Homo sapiens: one gene and its partner. The protein of the gene in region 2 interacts with the protein of the main gene of each other region in a pairwise test. Each region holds a gene or a part of one and is shown on either strand. Other genes may lie near its edges. The genes, in order: RGL3 and FAM200A.

Region 1 (7,305 bases), on a different chromosome or scaffold from region 2:
GACCATCCTGGCCAATATGGCGAAACCCTGTCTCTACTAAAAATACAACAACAACAAAAAAAGGTAGCTGGGTGTGGTGGCGCATGCCTGTAGTCCCAGCTACTCGGGAGGCTGAGGTTGCAGTGAGTCAAGATCAGGCCATTGCACTGCAGCCTTGGTGACACAGTAAGACTCTATCTCAAAAAAAAAAAAAAAAAAAAGGTACCAGGAGTCATATTCTATGTCCCCCACTCTGGACCCAGCTCTGAGACCCTGCCTCTCTGGCCAGGGCTGTGGTGTCAGTGCTGGGCTCCTGGCTGCAGGACCACCCTCAGGATTTCCGAGACCACCCTGCCCATTCGGACCTGGGCAGTGTCCGAACCTTTCTGGGCTGGGCGGCCCCAGGGAGTGCTGAGGCTCAAAAAGCAGAGAAGCTTCTGGAAGATTTTTTGGAGGAGGCTGAGCGAGAGCAGGAAGAGGAGCCGCCTCAGGTGTGGACAGGTGAGGGGTTTTCAGATCCAGTCGTGTTCTGAGAAGGCCTTTCCTGTCTGCTTCTTCCCACACAGGCTTTCTCTCCCCTCTCAGAGCTACAAAACTTAAGCAAGATTTTAAACTCTAAGCCTCAATTTCTTCATCTTTACAATGGGGATAATAATTCTTTGTCAGCCGGGCGTGGTGGCTCACGCCTGTATCCCAGCAGTTTGGGAGGCCAAGGATGGTGTATCACCTGAGGTCAGGAGTTTGAGACCAGTCTGACAAACATGGAGAAACCCCATCCCTACTAAAAATACAAAATTAGCCGGGCGTGGTGGGGCATGTCTATAATCCCAGCTATTCGGGAGGCTGAGGCAGGAGAATCGTTTGAACCCGGGAGGCGGAGGTTGCGGTGAGTCGAGATCGTGCCATTGCACTCTCGCCTGGACAACCAGAGCGAAACTCCGTCTAAAAAAAAAAACAAATTCTTTGTCTGAAGTATTAGCATGTGTCTAATACTTTTCCCTCCTTGGTGCCGTTGGGTCAGGATGCTCTGTGTTTCTAGCTACAAACCATTGCCTTGATACTTGTCTTTATTTTCTTTTTTTTGAGTCAGGGTCTTGCTCCGTTGCTCAGGCTGGAGTGCAGTGTCTCCATCATGGCTCAGTGCAGGCTCAACATCCTGGACTCAGGTGATCCTCCCGCCTGGGTCTCCAAAACTGCTGGCATTACAGGCGCGAGCCACTATACCTAGCCTGTAAAATTTTTCTTATTTTTGAATTTCTTTTTAAATTTAATTTAATTTAATTTTATTTTTTTATCTATTTTTTTTTTTAGACAGAGTCTCGCACTGTTACCCAGGCTGGAGTGCAGTGGCACAATCTTGGCTCACTGCAACCTCCACCTCCTGGGCTCAAGCCATTCTCCTGTCTCAGCCTCCTGAGTAGCTGGGACCACAGGCGCATGTCACCACGCCCGGCTAATTTTTTTGTAAAGGTGAGGTTGTGCCATGTTGCCCAGGCTGGTCTCAAACTCCTGAACTCAAGTGATCTGCCTGCCTTGGCCTCCCAAAATGCTGGGATTACAGCCATAAGCCATTGTGCATGCGTAGCCTCCTTACTTGATTATTGGCTTTTGCTCATCTCATAGGCTGTGAGTGCATGAGAGGAGGACCTGTTGTTCTTGCTCCCAGCTCTGTCCCCAGGGGCAGGAACAACACAGATTAGTTTGCTGAATAATTGCATCCTGCTTAGGAAGTATCATCTTTCACCCATCTGTATTTGATCTGATCCACATCACAAAAGCATCTCTATCCCTAATCCCCATCGCTTAATCTCCAGATTATAGTGGCCACCTTCCTGTCCAATTTACAAAGTAGCAGCCACTTCTCTATCCCTGGTGACAAAGTCTCAGTTATTTATATATATATAAAGGTATATATATATATATATATATATATATATATATATATATGAAGGTGTATATATATATATATATATGAAGGTATATATATATATGTATATATATGAAGGTATATATATATAAAGGTATATATATATAAAGGTATATATATAAAGGTATATATATATATAAAGGTATATATAAAGGTATATATATATAAAGGTATATATATATATATGAAGGTATATATATATATGTATATATATGAAGGTATATATATATAAAGGTATATATATATAAAGGTATATATATAAAGGTATATATATATATAAAGGTATATATATATAAAGGTATATATATATATAAAGGTATATATATATAGGTGTATATATATATATATATATATATATATATATATATATATATATGATTTCTCCAGCTGATTCCAAGTCATTAGAGCTCCATAGTTCACTGTGGTATCCACTAGCCCCTGTCGCTATTTAAATTAATTAAAATTGGCTGGGCGCGGCGGCTCATGCCTATAATCCCAGCACTTTGGGAGGCCGACGGGGGCGGATCCCAAGGTTCGGAGATCGAGACCATCCTGGCTAACATGGTGAAACCCCGTCTCTACTAAAAATACAAAAAAATATTAGCCGGGCGTGGTGGCGAGCGCCTGTAGTCCCAGCTACTCGGGAGGCTGAGGCAGGAGAATGGCGCGAACCTGGGAGGCGGAGCTTGCAGTGAGCTGAGATCAAGCCACTGAACTCCAGCCTGGGTGACAGAGCGAGACTCTGCCTAAAAAAAAAAAACCAAAAAACAAAATTATAATAATAATTAATTAATTAATTAAAATTAAATAAAATTCAGGTCTTTTCTTTTTAGAGATGGGGTCTTGCCATGTTGCCCAGGCTGGTCTCGAACTCCTGGGCTTAAGCAATCCTCCAGCATCAACCTCTCAGAGTGCTGGGATTGTAAGTGTGAGCTACTGTGCCTGACCCTGCCCTTTTTTTTTTTTTTTTTTTTTTGAGACGGAGCCTCGCTCTGTCACCCAGGCTGGAGTGCAGTGGCGCCATCTCGGCACACTGCAACCTCCTCCTCCCAGGTTCAAAAGATTCTCCTGCCTTAGCCTCCCAAGTAGCTGGGATTATAGGCACCTGCCACCACACCCAGCTAATTTTGTATTTTTATTAGAGACAGCGTTTCACTATGTTGGTCAGTCTGGTCTTGAACTCCTGACCTCAGGTGATCCACCCACCTCGGTCTCCCAAAGTGCTGGGATTACAGGCGTGAGCTACCATGCCTGGCCCGCTTTTTTTTTTTTTTTTTTTCTTTTTCAAAATCCAGTCAAGCAAAGGCAAAAATTCAGGTCTTCAATCCCACTACCCACATTTTGAGTGCTCAGCCACCACACTGGACATAGCAGATAGATAATTTTTCCACCATTGCAGAGAATTATATGGAAAGTGCTGCCCTAGTTTCTTTGAGGTCAGAGGAGAAAATTAACATTTGTTTAAGACCTTCTATGTGCTAGGCCCTGGGACACACTTTATTTCATTTTATTTTATTTTATTTATTTTTACTTTTATTTTATTTTGAGACAGAGTCTCGCTCTGTCGCCTAGGCTGGAGTGCAATGGCGCGATCTTGGCTTACTGCAACCTCCACCTCCTGGGTTCAAGTGATTCTCCTGCCTCAGCCTCCTGAGTAGCTGGTACTACAGGCGCCCGCCACCAGGCCCAGCTAATTTTTTGTAGTTTTAGTAGAGACGGGGTTTCACCGTGCTAGCCAAGATGGTCTCGATCTCCTGATCTCGTGATCCGCTTGCCTCGGTCTCCCAAAGTGCTGGGATTACAGGCGTGAGCCACCGCACCCGACTATGAATTTTATTTTTAGATACAGGGTCTTGCTCTGTTGCCCAGGCTGGACTCGAACTCCTGGGCTCAAGTGAGCCTCCTACCTCAGCCTCCTGAGTAGCTAAGACTACACTTGCACCATGTAGTTTAGAAGAAAGTAGATGACCACCATGCTCATCTATTTTATTTTAACAACTTTATTTTGGGTTCACTTTTTGCTATGGAAAATTTCAGACATATACAAAAGTAGAGAGAATAGTATGAAGAACATTCAGACATCCATCACCTATCATCAACGATGATCAATTTCACAAAAAAATATTTTCAGGATGATTTTAAAACAAATCCCGGGCTTATGTCAATTCATACATAAATGTTTTGGGTACACATGTCTGACAACAGGCTTACTTTTTTTTTTTTTTTTTTTGAGACGGAGTTTCGCTCTTGTTGCCCAGGCTGGAGTGCAATGGCAGGATCTCAGCTCACCTCAACCTCTGCCTCCTGGGTTCAAGTGATTCTCCTGCCTCAGCCTCCCGAGTAGCTGGGATTACAGGCGTGCACCACCACACCCGGCTAATTTTCTATTTTTAGTAGAGAGGGGGGTTTCTCCATGTTTGTCAGGCTGGTCTCGAACTCCTGACCTCAGGTGATCCGCCCACCTTGGCCTCCCAAAGTGTTGGTATTACAGGCGTGAGCCATGGCGCCCGGCCCTTTTATTTTTATTTTTTAATAACCTTCATGTTCATACTTAAAAAAAAATCAGAAATATTTGATATAAAAAAAATCCAATCCAGGCCAGATGCAGAGGCTCCTGCTGGCGATCCCAGCATTTTGGGAGGCCAAGGCAGGTGGATGGCTTGAGCCCAGGAGATTGAGACTAGCCTGGGCAACATGTTGAAACTTTGTGTCTACAAATAATTAGCTGGGCATGGTGGTGACTGCCTATAGTCCCAGCTGCTTGGGAGGCTGAGGCAAGAGGATCATTTTAGCCTGGGATGGTCAAGGCTGCAGTGAGCCGTGATTATGCCACTGTACTCCAGCCTAGGTGACAGAGCGAGACCCTGCCTCAAAAACAGAAAAAATACCCAGTCTATATTCAAATATTCAAATCCCCTGTTTGTGCCTGAACCTTTTTTTGGACACTGGGTTTTCCTATTTTGCCTGGGCTGGGCTTGAACTCCTGACCCTCCCACCTCAGCCTCCTGAGTAGCTGGGACCACAGGTGCCCACCATGGCACCCAGCCCTAAATTTTCTTTTGACAGTTGTTTCTGGCCAGGTGTTGTGGCACATGCCTATAGTCCCAGCTACTTAGGATGCTGAGATGGGAGGATCTCTTGACTCCGGGAAATCAAAGCTGCCGTGAGCTGTGAGCATGCCCCTGCACTCCAGGCGATAGAGCTGGGGGAAGGAGGAATAGTTGTTTCTTCAAATTGAAATCCAAAGATCTACTCAAGGTATTTGGTTGTTTGCTTCTCTTTTTTTTTTTTTTTTTTTTTTTGAGATGGAGTCTCACTCTGTTGTCCAGGCTGGAGGGTAGTGGCGTGATCTTGGCTCACTGCAACCTCCGCCTCCTGGGTTCAAGCGATTCTCCTGGCTCAGCCTCCTGAGTAGCTGAGTTTACAGGTGCCCACCAACACGCCCAGCTAATTTTTGTATTTTTAGTAGTGAGGGGGTTTCACCATGTTGGCCAGGCTGGTCTTGAACTCCTAACCTTTAGTGATCTGCCCACATCGGCCTCCCGAAGTGTCGGGATTACAGACATGAGTCACCACGCCCTACCGGTCGTTTGTTCCTAAGTCTCTTTTATTCTGTAACAGATCCCCCTTGCCTCTTGTTTGAAGCCATTAGAGGGCAAAAAAAATGGGTCATTTTTCCTGAGGTATGTCTCACATTCTTTTCGACTTACCTCATGGTTTCATGCAGCATGTTTCTCTATCCCCATAATTGCTGTAAGATTTAAAGGTTTGATTAGATGTAGGGCATTTTTTTTTCCAGGGCCCACTTTTTTTTGGGGTGGGGGGAGGAGAGACAGTTTCTTGCTCTGTCACCCAGGCTGGAGTGCTATGGCATGATCACAGCTCACTGCAGCCTTGACCTCCTGGGCTCAAGAGATCCTCCCTCCTAAGCCTCTTGAGTAGGTGGGACAGCAGGTGTGCATCAGGATGCGCAACTTTAAAAATTTTTTTATGTAGACATGGGGTCTCACTACGCCGCCCAGGCTGGTCTCAAACTCCTGGTCTCAAGCAATCCTCCTACCTCAACCTCCAAAAGTGCTGGGACTATAGGTGTGCCCAGCCCAGTACCCACTTCTAAAAACTAATATTTTGCAATGCCACCTGTCCTAATTCAAGATGAAAGAGGTAATTACACAGATTTACAAAGATTATTTTAAAATAATAGTATTGGGGCAGGGTGCTATGGCTCATGCCTGTAATCCCAGCACGTTGGGAAGCCGAGGCAGGAGGATCACCTGAGGTCAGGAGTTCGAGACCAGTCCGGCCAACATGGTGAAACCCCATCTCTACTAAAAAAAATAAAAAATAAAATAAAATAAAATAAAAAATAAATAAATAATAAAAAAATATATATATATTTAAATTAGCTGGCTGGGCATAGTGGCACCTCCTGTAGTCCCAGTTGCTCAGGAGGCTGAGGCAGGAGAATTGCTTGAACCCTGGAGGCAGAGGTTGCAGTGAGCCGAGATCGAGCCACTGCACTCCAGCCTGGGCGACAGAGCAAGACTCCATCACAAAATAAAAAAATAAAATAAAATAATAGTATGATGCCATAACTAGTACAAAGGAGAAGGAAAGTGAGAGTAACTTACACAGCAATAAACCATGTTTTCAATGGGTAATGCTTGGGTATGCCCCACTAGGACACATGATGAGGTTGTCCCGTGTCTTTGCCTGTCCTAGCGTCACAGTAGAGTGTCACGGTGCTGTTGTACTGACAGCAACAAGCACCAACGAACGCACAGGAGGGCACTGGTGAGGCAAAGACAGCAACATAGGTTCTGGGGACATCATTTTCCAAACTTGTGAACAACATTTGCAATTTGCAAACAAAACAAAGCCCAGACTTTCGTGGTCCTTGCATTCTTGGAGCCAAAAAAATTTGTGTTTATGAACAAAATAGTCAGGTTCTAGGTGCATATTATTGCAAACATGTTTTTCTTTTCTTTTTGTTTTTGTTTGTTTGTTTGTTTTGTTTTGTTTTGTTTTTTGAGATGGAGTCTCGCTCTGTCGCCCAGGCTGGAGTGCAGTGGCATGATCTCGGCTTACTGCAAGCTCCGCCTCGCCGGTTCACGCCATTCTCCTGCCTCAGCCTCCTGGGTAGCTGGGACTACAGGCGCCCGCCACCACGCCTGGCTAATTTTTTCTATTTTTTAGTAGAGACGGGGTTTCACCATGTTAGCCAGGATGGTCTCGATCTCCTGACCTCGTGATCTACCCGCCTTGGCCTCCCAAAGTGCTGGGATTACAGGCGTGAGCCACTGCCCCCGGCCTTCTTTTCTTTTCTTTTTTTTTTTTTTTTGAGACAAAGTCTCTGTCACCCAGGCTAGAGTGCCGTGGCGTGGACCTGGCTCACTGCA
Region 2 (3,620 bases):
TGTGGAAATCTCATTCTCCCTCCAGAATAATTCATGGATCTATGTAACATGAACATGTTTCAATATTCATAATACTGAATAATTATGCAGCTTAATTTCTTATTTTTAAGAAATACAAGTTCTCATTTTTTTCCCTATGCCCCAGTGGATCATCTTGTGTACCCTATGTACCCTACCTGATGGTTTTTTTTGTTTTTTGTTTTTTGTTTTTTTTTTTTGAGACAGCGTCTTGCTCAGTTGCCCAGGCGTGGTGGCACATGGCCTGTAATTCCAGCTACTTGGGAGGCAGAGGCAGGAGAATCACTTTAACCTGGGAAGTGGAGGTTGCAGTGAGCCGAGATCGTGCCCTTGCACTCCAGCCTGGGCAACAAGAGCGAAACTCCATCTCAAAAAAAAAAAAAAAAAAAAGAATGACCAGATCACTTTTTAGAGTTGGCAGTGTAGCAGCATATTTAGGACACTCGCTTCAGACTTGGATTTGAGTGCTGGTTCTATACTTACTGTGGGTTGTTAGACACATTTAATCTTTCTGAACTTTTATTTTTCATCTGTAATATAAGAATAGTAATTATGTGAACCTCATTAGGTTTCCCTGGGTATTAAATGAGTGGTGTATATAGTACACCAAATCTCCCTGACACACAGCCAACATGAATGACAGTTGCTCATCATTTACCATGTCACACCACTAGATTTAGTGAATTGTTTTGTATGAGTTGTTAGCCCAGCAATACCATGTTGCTTTTTAATACTGCTGTTACGTTTTTCTACCCTGCAGGATAGCAAAACCTGATCTCATAAAACCTAGGTCACAAAGGACAGCCCTGCAAAACAGACCCTATTTGGATCAAGTGAGCCAGTTCCTGGAACCTGAATAATGACTCCTGAATCAAGGGATACTACAGATTTGTCTCCAGGGGGTACCCAGGAGATGGAAGGCATCGTGATAGTGAAGGTGGAGGAGGAAGATGAAGAAGACCATTTTCAAAAGGAAAGAAACAAAGTAGAGTCATCGCCACAAGTTCTCAGTCGCTCTACAACTATGAATGAGAGAGCCTTATTGTCATCGTATTTAGTTGCATATAGAGTGGCAAAAGAGAAAATGGCTCACACAGCGGCTGAAAAAATTATCCTTCCAGCATGTATGGACATGGTACGGACAATTTTTGATGACAAATCAGCTGATAAACTAAGAACTATACCTCTTAGTGATAATACAATATCTCGTCGAATCTGTACGATTGCAAAACATTTGGAAGCAATGCTTATTACACGGCTGCAGTCCGGTATAGACTTTGCAATCCAACTCGATGAGAGCACTGATATTGCAAGTTGTCCCACACTCTTGGTTTATGTCAGATATGTGTGGCAAGATGATTTTGTAGAGGATCTCTTATGTTGTTTAAATTTAAATTCACATATAACTGGATTAGATTTATTTACTGAATTAGAAAACTGCCTTCTTGGTCAGTATAAATTAAACTGGAAACATTGTAAAGGAATTTCAAGTGATGGAACAGCAAATATGACCGGAAAACACAGCAGACTTACTGAAAAATTGTTAGAAGCAACCCACAACAATGCTGTTTGGAATCACTGTTTTATTCATCGAGAAGCTTTGGTATCCAAAGAAATTTCACCAAGTCTGATGGATGTATTGAAAAATGCAGTGAAAACTGTTAATTTTATTAAAGGAAGCTCACTGAATAGCCGACTTCTCGAAATATTTTGTTCAGAGATTGGAGTGAACCACACCCACTTATTGTTTCATACAGAAGTTCGTTGGCTTTCTCAAGGAAAAGTATTGAGCAGAGTATATGAACTCAGGAACGAGATTTACATTTTTCTCGTTGAAAAGCAATCTCATTTGGCAAATATTTTTGAAGACGACATTTGGGTAACAAAATTGGCATATTTAAGTGATATTTTTGGCATTCTTAATGAATTAAGCCTGAAAATGCAGGGGAAAAACAATGATATATTTCAGTATCTTGAACATATTCTAGGATTCCAAAAGACGTTATTATTGTGGCAAGCAAGACTTAAAAGTAACCGCCCTAGCTACTATATGTTTCCAACATTATTGCAACACATCGAAGAGAACATTATTAATGAAGACTGCTTAAAAGAAATAAAATTAGAGATATTGTTGCATCTCACTTCTTTGTCTCAAACTTTTAATTATTACTTTCCGGAAGAGAAATTTGAATCATTAAAGGAAAATATTTGGATGAAAGATCCATTTGCTTTTCAAAACCCAGAATCAATAATTGAGTTAAACTTGGAGCCTGAAGAAGAGAATGAATTATTGCAGCTCAGTTCATCATTCACACTAAAGAATTATTATAAGATATTAAGTTTATCAGCATTTTGGATTAAGATTAAAGATGACTTTCCACTGCTAAGTAGGAAGAGTATATTGCTGTTACTACCATTCACAACTACATATTTGTGTGAACTAGGATTTTCAATCTTGACACGGTTAAAAACAAAGAAGAGAAATAGGCTCAATAGTGCACCAGATATGCGGGTAGCATTATCTTCATGTGTTCCTGACTGGAAGGAACTTATGAACAGACAAGCACACCCATCACATTAAATACAAACTTTACAAAATTCTGTGTATAGCCAGGTGTGGTGGCTTACGCCTGTAATCCCAGCAGTGGGAGACCGAGGTGGGCAGATCACTTGAGTTCAAGACCAGCCTGGCCAACATGGTGAAACCCCATCTCTACTAAAAATAGAAACCTTAGCCAGGCGTGGTGGCACATGCCTGCAGTCCCAGTTACTTGGGTGCCTGAGGCAGGAGAATCTCTTAAACCAGGAAGGCAGAGATTGCAGTGAGCTGAGATAATCCCACTGCATTCCAGCCTGGGCAACAGCGTGAGACTTCATCTCAAAAAAAAAAAATTGTATTTGTACTTTTAAAGGGATTTTGCAGTATGTTGTAGTTAAACGTTAATAAAATTATATTTGTAATTAGGATTTTATTTTTCTACATAGTATGTTTCATGAAACTCATTTCAGTTACATGAATGTGTGTATGTGTACAAGGTTATTATATAAAATATATGTCCTGTGAATTATTGTCAAGAATTTTGAAAACTAAGAGGCCAGCACAGTGGCTCACACCTGTAATCCCAGCACTTCGGGAGGCCAAGGTGGGTGGATTGCTTGTGCCCAGGAGTTTTGAGACCAGCCTGGGCAACACATTGAAATCCCGTCTCTACAAAAAATACAAAAATTTGGCCAGGCTTGGTGGTGTGCACCTGTAGTACCAGCTACTTGGGAGGCTGAGGTGGGAGGATCACTTGAGCCCAGTAGGTCGAGGCTACAGTGAGCTGTGATCGTGCAACTGCACTCTAGTCTGAGCAACAGAGCAAGACCCTGTCTTGAAAAAAAAATTTTTTTTAAATACTGCTTTTTTTTTTTTTTTTTTTTTTGAAGACAGAGTTTCACTCTTACTGCCCAAGCTGGAGTGCAGCGGCACAATCTTGGTTCACTGCAACCTCCGCCTCTGGGGTTCAAGCAATTCTTCTGCCTCAGCCTCCCAAGTAGCTGGGATTACAGGCACGTGCCACCATGCCCAGCTAATTTTTTTTGTATTTTTAGTAGAAACA

The links.
Region 1: the proteins of FAM200A (region 2) and RGL3 interact in binary tests that used the Homo sapiens proteins (3 or more experiments, as listed by UniProt).

Annotation. Positions count from the first base shown.
Region 1 is NC_000019.10:11,409,112-11,416,416, reverse strand, and holds part of RGL3 (ral guanine nucleotide dissociation stimulator-like 3), read left to right. Parts: intron 1-268; coding exon 269-480; intron 481-7,305.
Region 2 is NC_000007.14:99,545,665-99,549,284, reverse strand, and holds the end of FAM200A (protein FAM200A), read left to right. Parts: intron 1-778; 5' UTR 779-877; coding exon 878-2,599; 3' UTR 2,600-2,985; downstream 2,986-3,620.